Regions from separate parts of the Homo sapiens genome. Here region 2 is linked to region 1. A link means that fine-mapping ties the variant in region 1 to the expression of a gene that starts in the linked region. Tissue or cell type: whole blood. Region 1 holds a variant in brackets; the other region holds the start of a gene. All regions are shown on one strand. Distances are from middle to middle.

The links. PIP is the estimated chance that this variant, and not a neighbour inherited with it, causes the effect.
Region 2: EIF3D starts here. The variant in region 1 is fine-mapped to the expression of EIF3D in whole blood (INTERVAL, PIP 0.92).

The regions. Positions count from the first base shown.
Region 1 is chr22:36,457,674-36,463,537 of GRCh38, forward strand. No RefSeq gene overlaps it. Among named protein-coding and RNA genes, the nearest start is that of TXN2, 21 kb to the right of the region's middle. RefSeq lists an enhancer at 3,777-4,309. The variant A/C (reference allele first, on the strand shown) is at 2,384.
Region 2 is chr22:36,526,602-36,532,153 of GRCh38, forward strand. EIF3D (eukaryotic translation initiation factor 3 subunit D) reads right to left here and starts at 2,565. Exons shown (of 15, transcript NM_003753.4): 1 at 2,475-2,565. RefSeq lists enhancers at 2,076-2,125, 2,436-2,835.

The sequences.
Region 1 (5,864 bases):
GGACCAGGAACTGAGAGAAGGCTGGCCCCCACCTGTGGGACTCTAGCCAGGTGGGGGAGACAGATGTATAGACACAATGCCAACAGTTTGGTTCCTCGACGGCTGGAGAAGGGAGTGATCGACCAGGGTTTCTGAAGAACCCCCTCCTGACGTGGCCACTCACCAGCTGACCTCAGGCCTGTCCCTTCCTTTGGCTGGCCCTGGACCTTCTCTGTCAACTCAGGCAGTTGGAGCTGGTCCCTGAGGGCCTTCCTGCCCTGAAGTCATGACTTGTGGGGAGCTGAGTTCTGGGAAATGCATCCTCTGGAGAGGCACCAGAGGCCGCGCATGCCTGAGTGAGTGTGGGGGTGCGCCCTGGCCTCACTAGCCAAACACCAACTTCATCTTCCCAGGCTACCCTGGCCCGAGCAGCTCCGGCTCCTTCCCTGCCTGCCTCATCCTCCCAGGCCACTGTCCAGGAAGCTGGCCTCTCTGCCTGTTCCCCACAGCCCCTGGGGGTGGGGCCAGAGTAGGGCAAAAAGGGCCTGGGCCTGGCCCAGCAGAGCCTCTGCCCCTCCTTCGGGGGCTCCTGTTCTTGTGGGCTGAGAGCTGCAGCCCTGCAGCCGGCCTGGCTGTGGCTCAGTGGTCAGGGCCAAGTGCAGAGCAAACACCCTGCCCACTGGGCAGCCATTTCACGGTCATTCCCAGGCTGCATGGGGTCCCCAGTCGGGCAACTAAGTGCAGATGTGAAACAACGAGCTTTCCAAGATCCAGGGATTTGACCCTTGGGAAAGAGACTCCCTAAGGGAACTGCTTCCTGTCACTCCCCAACCACCACTTTGAGAAATAATTTTCTCTCCCTCAACCTCACTGCCAGCCTCAGTCAAGAGCAAACCGAGGACTGGTAGTGGGAGCTCAGGGCCACCTTGGGATTCTCTGCTCTCGCTGCTGGCTGAGCCCAGGCAAGGCCCCTGCCCTCTCTGGGCTTCCATTTCCCTCTCCTGCTCCAAACTTGCTAGCTTCCTTCCCTATCTCAACATCATAGGGACCCTTCGAGATGGGAACTACTAATAGGGGAAATCATATGGGAAACCAGGCTGGGCGCAGTGGCTCACACCTATAATCCCAGTACTTTGGGAGGCCGAGGTGGGAGGATCACCTGAGGTCAGGAGTTCCAGACCAGCCTGACCAACATGGTGAAACCCTGTGTCTACTAAAAATACAAAAATTAGCCGGGCGTGGTGGCAGGTGCCTGTAATCCCAGCTACTCAGGAGGCTGAGAGGTAGGGGAATCACATGAACCTGGGAGGTGGAGGTTGCAGTGAGCTGAGATCCTGCCACTGCACTCCAGCCTGGGTAACAGAGTGAGACTCCATCTCAAAAATAAAATAAAAAATGACCATATCCTTATAGGAACCATTATTTTGAACTCAGAATCTCAGAAAAACCAGGATTTGGGGCCTGGAACTTTCTTTGTCTTATTTTGTTTTGTTTTGGATTTTTTGGGGAGACAGAGTCTTGCTCTGTCACCCAGGCTGGAGTACAGTGGCGCGATCTAGGCTTACTGCAAGCTCCGCCTCCCGGGTTCACGCCATTCTCCTGCCTCAGCCTCCCGCCACCACGCCTGGCTAATTTTTTGTATTTTTAGTAGAGATGGGGTTTCACCGTGTTAGCCAGGATGGTCTCCATCTCCTGACCTCGTGATCTGCTCACCTCGGCCTCCCAAAGTGCTGGGATTACAGGCGTGAGCCACCGTGCCTGGCTGGGGCCCGGAACTTTCTAAGGCAGAGGCGGCAGAGACAAAGAGGTGGCTGGAGGTGGGGCAGTGCCGAGCCAAGTCTCAGGACATCCCTACTGCCGAGCCTCCCCTCCCACAAAGTAAACCGGCAGGTGGGCAGTGCAGGCGGGGCCCAGCTCGGGTTTCACTCCTTCCCCGCTCTCGGGGACAATAAAATGCTCCCTTTGCCCTGGAAATCCCACTTGTATAAAATCCAAAAGAAGAAATAAGCTCTTATGTTCAAACAGGTTTGTTCCAACCTCATTTATAATGGAAAAATATTAACTGAAAAATTCCTTAGTATCCGACAATGGGGGAGAAGTTAACAGTTTGACCGGAGCTGAGTGACATGCAAAAGGGTGTTTGTGGAGTGCAGGGAGCTCCTGCTGTGTGTGTGGGAGGGTGGAGAGGGCATGGGGAGAGGAGCAGGGACCCCAGAGTCAGACTGTCTAGGTTTAAATCCTGTCTGCTCCTTCCTAGCTGTGTGACCTTGAGTCATAACCCAAAGCCCTCTGTACCTCCATGTCCCCCTCCATAAACTGGCACTGGGCTGGGCATGGTGGCTTATGCCTGTAATCCCAGCATTTTGGGAGACCAAGGCAGGTGGATCACCTGAGGTCAGGAGTT[A/C]GAGACCAGCCTGGCCAACATGGTGAAACCCCGTCTCTACTAAAAATACAAAAATTAGCCAGGTGTAGTGGCAGGTGCCTGTAGTCCCAGCTACTCAGGAGGCTGAGGCAGGAGAATCGCTTGAACCCAGGAGGCAGAGGTTGCAGTGGGCCGAGATTGTGCCACTGTGCTCCAGCCTGGGTAATAGGTGACAGAGCGAGACTCCGTCTCAAAACAAAACAAAACAAAAAAAAGGAGAGAGAGACTTGGGGGATGTGTGTGCCCAGAGGAAAATCCATGTGAGGACCCAGCAAGAAGGTGGCCACCCGCAAGCCAAGCAGAGAGGCTTCAGGAGAAACCAACCCTGCCAGCACCTTGATTTTGGACTTCCAGCCCCAGAACTGTGAAAAAATAAACATCTGTTGTTTAAACCACCCAGTCTGTGATATTTTGTGATGGCTGGCCTAGCAAACTAATACACATTACTAACACACAATAAGAGAAGCGTTTAATAGGGCGCTTACCACGTAATTGCATTGTGTTCTGACATTACATTTACGATCTCATAACCATGAGGAGGGTCCTGTCCTCCCATTTCAGAGATGAAGGAAACTGAGGCTTGGCTAGTGACGGAGAGGGCTGTGACTGGAGCCAGGACTGTGTGACTCCAAGGCCCCACCAAAGCCTCCTCCTGGGATGGACCATGGACTTTCCTGCCTCTGTGCTGTGCATACGCTCTCCCTTCTGCCTGGAATACCCTTCCCACCACTTGCCTCTCAGGACGAGTCCCAGTCGATTCTTCAAAACTCTTCTTGGCCCGGCAAGGTGGCTCACACCTGTAATCCCAGCACTTTGGAAGGCCAAAGTGGGTGGATCACTTGAGGTTAGGAGTTTGAGACCGGCCTGGCCAACATGGTGAAACCCTGTCTCTACTAAAAATACAAAAATTAGCTGGGCCTTGTGGCAGGTGCCTGCAATCCCAGCTATTCAGGAGGCTGAGGCAGGAGAATTGCTTGAACCTGGGAGGTGGAGGTTGCAGTGAGCCAAGATCACACCACTGCACTCCAGCCTGTGCAACAGAGTTAGACTGTCTCAAAACAAAAACAAAAAACAACTTTTCTCAAGCATCACCTCCTTCCCATGCTTTACCCGACAATCTCCTTTTGCAGATGTGCTGCTTTTCAGGGCTTGCGGCCAGTCTGTACTCTGTCACCATGGTGGTAAATGTCATCTCTCCTGTAGCATTTAGACTTTAGATGTGTCCATGTGTTTGCTGTGAACTCCTGGAAGGCAGGGGCTGTGTCTTGCTCTAGTTCCTATCACCCAGCAGGCCCAGAGGGGCTCCGCACAGACGCTTGCTGGCTGAGGTAGCCAGTTTGGCCTGGAGAGAGTATTCCCGCCTCAGGAGTGGATCATGAGGAAATGGAATCTCCTGCCTCCTTGTGGGGTGGGGGTTGGGGGAGGTGGATAAAAGAGAGGCTCCACCTGGCACGGTGGCTCGTGCCCATAATCCCAGCACTTTGGGAGGCCGAGGTGGGTAGATCACCTGAGGTCAGGATTTTGAGACCAGCCTGGCCAACATGGTGAAACCCCATCTCTACTAAAAATACAAAAATTAGCTGGGCACCTGTAATCCCAGCTACTCGGGAGGCTGAGGCTGGACAATCGCTTGAATCCAGGAGGTGGAGCTTGCAGTGAGCCAAGATTGTGCCACTGCACTCCAGCCTGGGGGAAAAGAGCAAAATTCCATCTAAAAAAAAAAAAAAGCGGATCAAGGTCCCTACTCTGGGCATGAGAGGAGGGATCCTTTGACACTCCTGGGAGCAGCAGTGTGGCAGAGGAGGAGGAGCAGGGCATGGGGTCAGCCACCCTCAGTCCATTTCCCAGGGTGTGGCCTTAGGCACGGTCACTACCTCTCTGGGCTTCTGTCTCCACATGTATGAAATGGAATCAGTCCCTCCTTCCACAGGTGTTAGGTCGAAGAAGGCACCTCTGGTGGTATCGGCACAGAGGCTGGACACTGGATGACTTCTTTGCTGGGACACTGAGGTAGGGGGCAGACCAGAGACAGACAGCTACTTGCCTAAGCTCACCCAGCAAGCTGGCTGAAGGTGGAGAACTGGCTTGTCCTCCAGTTGGTAGTTAACAGCTGTCTAGCAGGAGTGTTCTTGCTCCCAGGAGACGCTCCGTTGGCTGCCACAGAGGTAAGCGTGAGAGTGCGCTCAGAAGTGGCTGGGAGGCATGGAGAACAGAGGAGCAGGTTCAGGGTGAATTCCAGTGGGCATTCTCCAAGGGTGAGGTCACTGCCTCCAACTCCCTAGGGCTGCCTGAGACACAGGCACCACCAAGCCAGCTCCAGAGCAGGAGGAGGTGGTGGCAGGGACCAGGGCCAGGTCACAGGGCTGAATGTAAGGCCCTCAGCCTGGTACAGCGACGGGCCCCTCCCATGGTGCTGGGGTCCTTACCTTGGGAAGCCCGGTGTTTCCTGTTTAAGATGTGGCTGGGGGTAGGGGAAAGGAGAAAGCCACACAGATAACACTTCTGGAACTTCCAATCGGTGCCAGCGTGCTTCCACCTGCTGAGCCGTGACCTCATTTGCAGGGACTGTCATGAGCCCCAACTTGGAGATGGTGCAACTGGGGCTCAAAATGGTGAAAACCTTGTCCCAAAAGGAAAGCAGTATAGCTAATGAGCAAGAACAAAGAGAATTTGAAATTAAAGACATTGGGGTTCATTCTTTTCCCCTTTTTTAAAATTTATTTTTGGGCCGGGCACGGTGGCTCACGCCTGTAATCCCAGCACTTTGGGACGCTGAGGTGGGCGGATCATTTGAGGTCAGGAGTTTGAGACCAGCCTGGCCAACATGGTGAAACCCTGTTTCTACTAAAAATACAAAAATTAACCAGGCATGGTGGCAAATGCCTGTAATCCCAGCTACTCGGGAGGCTGAGGCAGGAGAGCTGCTTGAACTCAGGAGGCGAAGGAGGTTGCAGTGGGCAGAGATCATGCCATTCTACTCCAGCCTGGGCAACAGAGCAAGATTCCATCTCAAAAACAATAAAATAAATAAATAAAATTTATTTTTTATATTTTTATTTTTTAGAACAAGATCTCACTCTGTCACCCAGGCTGGAGTGCAGTGGTGAGATCACAGCTCACTATAGCCTCAAACTCCTGGGCTCAAGTGATCCTCCCACCTCACCCTCCCAAGTAGCTGGGACTACAGGCGCACACCGCCATGCCAGGCTAATTTTTTTTTAAATTTTGTGTAAAGACAGGGTCTTGCTATGTTGCCCAGGTTGGTCCCGAACTCCTAGGCTCAAACGATCCTCTTGCCTTGGCCTCCCAAAGTGCTGGGATTACAGGCGTGAGCCATCGTGTCCGGCCACATCGGAGTTCAAATCTGAGCTCTGAACTCCATTCATGCCAAGTTACTTAAGCCCTCCAAGCCTCAGTTTCCTTGTCTGTAAAATGGCGGTAACAATGGTCCCTGCTGTTGGGG
Region 2 (5,552 bases), 69 kb after region 1:
TTTCTTTCTTTCTTTTTTTTTTTTGAGACAGAGTCTCACTTTGTCACCCATGCTGGGGTGCAGTGGCGTGCAACTTCCGCCTTCCGAGTTCAAGCGATTCTCCTGCCTCAGCCTCCTGAGTAGCTGGGATTACAGGCAAGCGCCGCCTGGCTATTTTCTGTGTTTTTAGTGGAGACAGGGTTTCACCATGTTGTCCAGGCTAGTCTTGAACTCCTGACCTCAAATGATCCTCCCGCCTCGACCTCCCAAAGTGCTGGGATTACAGGCGTGAGCCACCACGTCCAGCCACCTTAGTCTTTTCCATCTGCAAAATAAACAAGATCCTTGTTCTAAGCACTTTGTATAATGCCACACAAGTATTCAGACTTGCAAAAGTGCATTTATGTATATAGAGTGCTGAGAAAAAAAGATCTTTAAGTATATCCTGAAATTCAATTTTCCTTTCTCATTGTTTCAATTTTCTGCCATCAACGCAAATCCTGTGTGCAGTGCAAGCGGACATAAAGCCAGGCAGAAGAACTGCCAGAGGGCCAAGGAGGTCCCCACAGACCTCAGGCCCAAAGTTGCCATGTTAAATGTTCATGAATACTGCCAGGCACTGTTCTTACTGTTTACCACTCATTCATTCATACAGTCCTGCCAACAATCCTGTGAGGTAGGAGCCAATGTTATCCGCACTCTCCAGATAAGAAAACCAAAGCACAGAGAAATGAAGAAATTGCCCAAAGTTGAAATGCTAGTGGATGAAAAACGTGAACCAAAGCAGTCTGACCCCAGAGTCTGCACTCTGCATAATGCTATAGCCCTCTTGGGAATTAAAAAACCGGCGCTGTATAGCAGATGGCTGCCCGACACTTCTATAAAAAAACCTATGCATTTATCTTCCGTTGTAACCTTCTGAAAATGCTTAGAAGGCGAGTTCCTAGAGGAAAATTCACTACACAAGTATTTCTTGGAGGCCGGGCGCGGTGGCTCACGCCTGTAATCCCAGCACTTTGAGAGGCCGAGGTGGGCGGATCACGAGGTCAGCAGTTCGAGACCAGCCTGGTCAACATGGTGAAACCCAGTCTCTACTAAAAATACAAAAATTAGCTGGGCGTGGTGGCGGGCACCTGTAATACCAGCTACTCAGGAGGCGGAGGTTGCAGTGAGCCAAGATCCTGCCATTACACTCCAGCCTGGGCAACAGAGCAAGACTCCGTCTCAAAAAAACAAAAATCAAATGTTTCTTGGAGGCTGGAGAGCAATCAAAAGAACAGGTATGCTGAACTTAGTAAACTCTCCTCAAAGCCCCATGCTGGGGAGATTGAGGCTTCCTTCAGAGATGACATTTGGGTGACAGCAACACAGGATGAACCTAGAAGTTTCATCTTTCTAATAGAAACTATAGGAAGAGGACAGAAGAAAAAGGGTGGTGGTCTCAGAACAATTTGTATTAAATAAATATTGCTGAGCTCCTACGTGTTAGGCCCTATACCAGATAATTTAACACCATTGACCACCCCCCCACCCCTACTTTAGAGGCAAAAATTTGAAGCTCAGCCTACTCAAGCAGCTGACCTCATCATTTCAAAACAGATTTGATTTCCAGGGTTGCCTGCTGTCAGTCCAGCCTTCTTTCCATTATATTACAGCTGGGCAGCAGCCCGCAAAGATCAGGGGTTTGAGACCGTACATCATAATACCAAGACAACGAGTCTCAAAACACACTTTAAAAAATCGGGTTCTGTCAGAAGCTCAAGAAGGGAAGAGGCCCGAGGCTCGACCTGCATCACCTCCCTGGAAAGCCAGGGATGAGATACCCTGGCTTTAATAAATGTTTTTTTTTTTAAGAGCAGAGCGGAACCAGGAGGAGAAACTGAGCCGCTCAGCAAAAACGAAGTAACAGCTGTACTAGTCACAGGGGCAGGATAGGGAGGTTCCAAGAGGGCACTCAGAAGGGGCTCTGTGGTTGGCAGGCCACTACAGATCATAAGCCGTCCATCGCTGAACAGGGGGTGGGGTAGATTTAAGATCAGAGATCAAATCTACTTCTCTATCCTAGCCTCCAGTTTCACAAAAAAGGAAAGATAACCTATGCACTGTGAATTCCTAAGAACAGGGGCCAAACACCGCTCAGCCTGGTACCCCTAAGACCTCACTCAAAAAGTCAGGGAGTTTTCGGCCACTTCAGAAAGACTTTGTTGTTACCCCTCCGTCTTAACCCAGGTGAGTTAAGTGACAATCAAATTCACCCAGCTCATGGGCACTGAGCAGGGCCGAGGGCCAAGGACCTCACCCACAAGGTCGTGTCCCGCGTTCAGTAGCGTGCGGGACGCGGGGCCCCCGAAAGTGGATTCCTGCCCCGCCCAGCGGAGGGACGGCAACAGCAGGAAGGGACTAAGAGAGGTCTCTTCCGGGAGGCCCCCCGAAGGCTGGACCTAGTCCGAACCGGCTCCGGAGGGCCGCAGGAACCTATGAAACACGCCGCTCACCTGCAATGGCCTCGGCCGGCCGGGATGGCAACAGATGGTGCGTGCCGGGGACCGCGTTAGCAGCAGCACTCTTGAGAAACCAGGAAAAGAGGAAACATGCGCGCGCAGCGGGCGCCGCCGTAAACACGACCGGCGCTGTCGTAAACTGCTCTCCCGCTTCCTCTGGGTTGGGCGGAAGAACTCACGAGCCGTAAAGCGAAGGTCCACCCGGAAATCCGTTACTGCGTTTCGCCAGGCGTCCTCATTAGCCTCCGAGGCGCCGAGACGCGAGAGGTGTGATTGGCACTACGTCAGGCGGTATCCGGGGACGCCCAAAGAGGGCGTTCATCACTGAAACTTGGCGGCCGCGCAATCGAAGCTCGAGGCGGGGAGCGACTGGCGCCCTTCTGTGTCCCACAATGCTTCGCGGCGCGCCTCAGCCCCCATGTATCCCACCGTCACCCGCGACTCCCCGCCTGTTCTACCTGCCTGCTTAATGTGAAACTCAGCGCAGGGGAGGTCCGTCGGTGTCTTAGGCGGTCCTTATTGTTACTCCTCCGCCTTTATAGTTGTGGAAACTGAGGCTCAGAAGTGCCAAGTGACCTGCCTAGATCAGACTGTTAGTTTAGGGTTCTAACCGCCAGAGTTCAAACCATACTTCCGCAGTTCTCAAACTTAATTGTAGGACAGGGATTTCTGGAACAGTGTTTTTATTTATTTTTATTTATTTTTTGAGACAGGGTTTCGCTCTGTCGCCCAGGCTGAAATGTAGTGGCAGGATCACGGCTTATTGCACCCTCGACTTCTCAGGTACAAGCGATCCTCCCAGTTCAGCCTCCCGAGTCGTTGGTGTACACAGGCACGCACAACCACGCCTGCCTAATTTTTGTATTTTTGGTAGAGATGGGGTTTTGCTATGTTGCTCAGGCTGGTCTCAAACTCCTGAGCTCAACAGTCCACCCACTGGGGCTAGGGTTACAGGCATGAGTCACCGTACCCGGCCAGCTAATGATTTTTAAAAATTTTGTAGAGACAGCGTCTCACTATGTTGCCCGGGCTGGTCTTTAACTCCTGGTCTAAAGTGGTCCTCTCGCCTCAGCGTGCGGAGCAGCTGAGGCTACAGGTGCATGCCACCATGCCTGGCTAATTTTTTTTTTTAGACGGAGTCTTGCTCTGTCTTCCAGGCTGGAGTGGAGTGCAGTGGCGCTATCTCAGTTCACTGCAACCTCCGCATCCCAGGTTCAGGTGATTCTCCTGCTTCAGTCTCCCGAGTAGCTGGGATTGCAGGCGTGTACCAACATGCCCGGCTAATTTTCCTTTTAGTAGAGACGGGGTTTCACCTTGCTGACCAGGCTGGTCTCGAACTCCTGACCTCAGGTGATCTACCCACCTCGGCCTCCCAAAGTGCTAGGATTACAGGCGTGAGCCACTGCGTCCGGCTGCCTGGCTAATTAAAAAAAAAAAAAAAAACTTCTGTGGAGACGAAGTCTCATCATGTTGCCAAGGCTAGTCTCAAACTCCTGGGCTCAAGCAGTCCTCCTGTCTCGGTCTCCCAAAGTGCTGGGATTACGGGCGTGAGCCACCACACCTGACCAGGATAGTATTTTTAAAAATTCAGATTCTGGGTCTCATTTTGATAGATTATACGGATATGTTTATGCTGGAGCCCAAGAGCTCCGCATTAGCTGTGATTCTGAAGTGACGACTCAGGAACTGCTTTACTACAGTAGATAACAGTGCTGTCCTCTCAGCAACTCCCAGGCTATGGAGTTCCTCCTGGTGTCTTTCTTTCGGAATTTTAAAACAATGAAAGATAATCTGAGGGCATGACTTTATTCAAACCTCAGATCCTTTCTACCTGACATAGGTTTCCTTAGCCGCCTAGTATGTCTCCTTTATTAGAAAATATACCTGAAGTCTAGGCTCTGCCACATTCTTTTTTTTTTCTTTTCTTTTCTTTTTTTTTTTTTGAGACGGAGTGTCGCTCTGTTGCCAGGCGGGAGTGCAGTGGCGCGATCTCAGCTCACTGCAACGTCCACCTCCTGGGTTCAAGTGATTCTCCTGTCTCAGCCTCCTGAGTAGCTGGGAATACAGGCATGCGCCACCATGCCCAGCTAATTTTTATATTTTTAGTAGAGACAGGGTTTCACCATGTTGGCTGGGATGGTCTCAATCCCTTGACCTTGTGATCCCCCCGCCTCGGCCTCCCAAAGTGTTGGGATTACAGGCATAAGCCACTGTGCCCAGCCAGCTCTGCCACTTGATAGCTATGTGTGGCCTTCACATTCCTTGCCTTGTTTCCTTATTTGTAAATTGAAGATGATAATTAGAGGGCGCTGTGGGGGTGAAAATAAATGTGTGTGAAAGGACTTAGTAATTCCACTTATCATTTGGGTGAACTTGGACAGGTTATTCAACCTCTTTTTTTTTTTTTTTTTTTTTTTGAGACAGAGTCTCGCTCTGTTGCCCAGGCTGGAGTGCAGTGGCGAGATCTCGGCTCGCTGCAACCTCTGCCTCCCAGGTTCAAGCAATTATCTGCCCCAGCCTCCCGAGTAGCTGGGATTACAGGTGCCCACCACCATATCCGGCTAATTTTTTGTACTGTTAGTAGAGACGGGGTTTCACCATGTTGGTCAGGCTGGTCTCGAACTCCTGACCTTGTGATCCACCCGCCTCAGCCTCTCAAAGTGCTGGGATTACAGGCGTGAGCCACCGCACCTGGCCTATTCAACCTCTCTAAACCTGCTTATTCATCTGAAAAATGAGAATGCTAATAGCAGCACCTATTTCCATAAGCTCTCTCCCAACTGCTCATTTTTTTTTTTTCCTAATTTTTGTTAATGGTGTCTGGTGAATTGTGCCCAGTGGAAAGCCTTGTAGTCATCACTGGTAGTTCGTTTTTCCTTCCCTCCCACATTTAGTTCTTCACTATGTTCTCTTTATTCTACTTGCACAATGCATCTTGAATGCTATCACTTTTTTTTTTTTTTTTTTTTTGAGACAGAGTCTTGCCCTGTCACCCAGGCTGGTGTGCAGTGGCGCAATCTCAGCTCACTGCAACCTCCGCCTCCCGGGTTCAAGCAATTCTCCTGCCTCAGC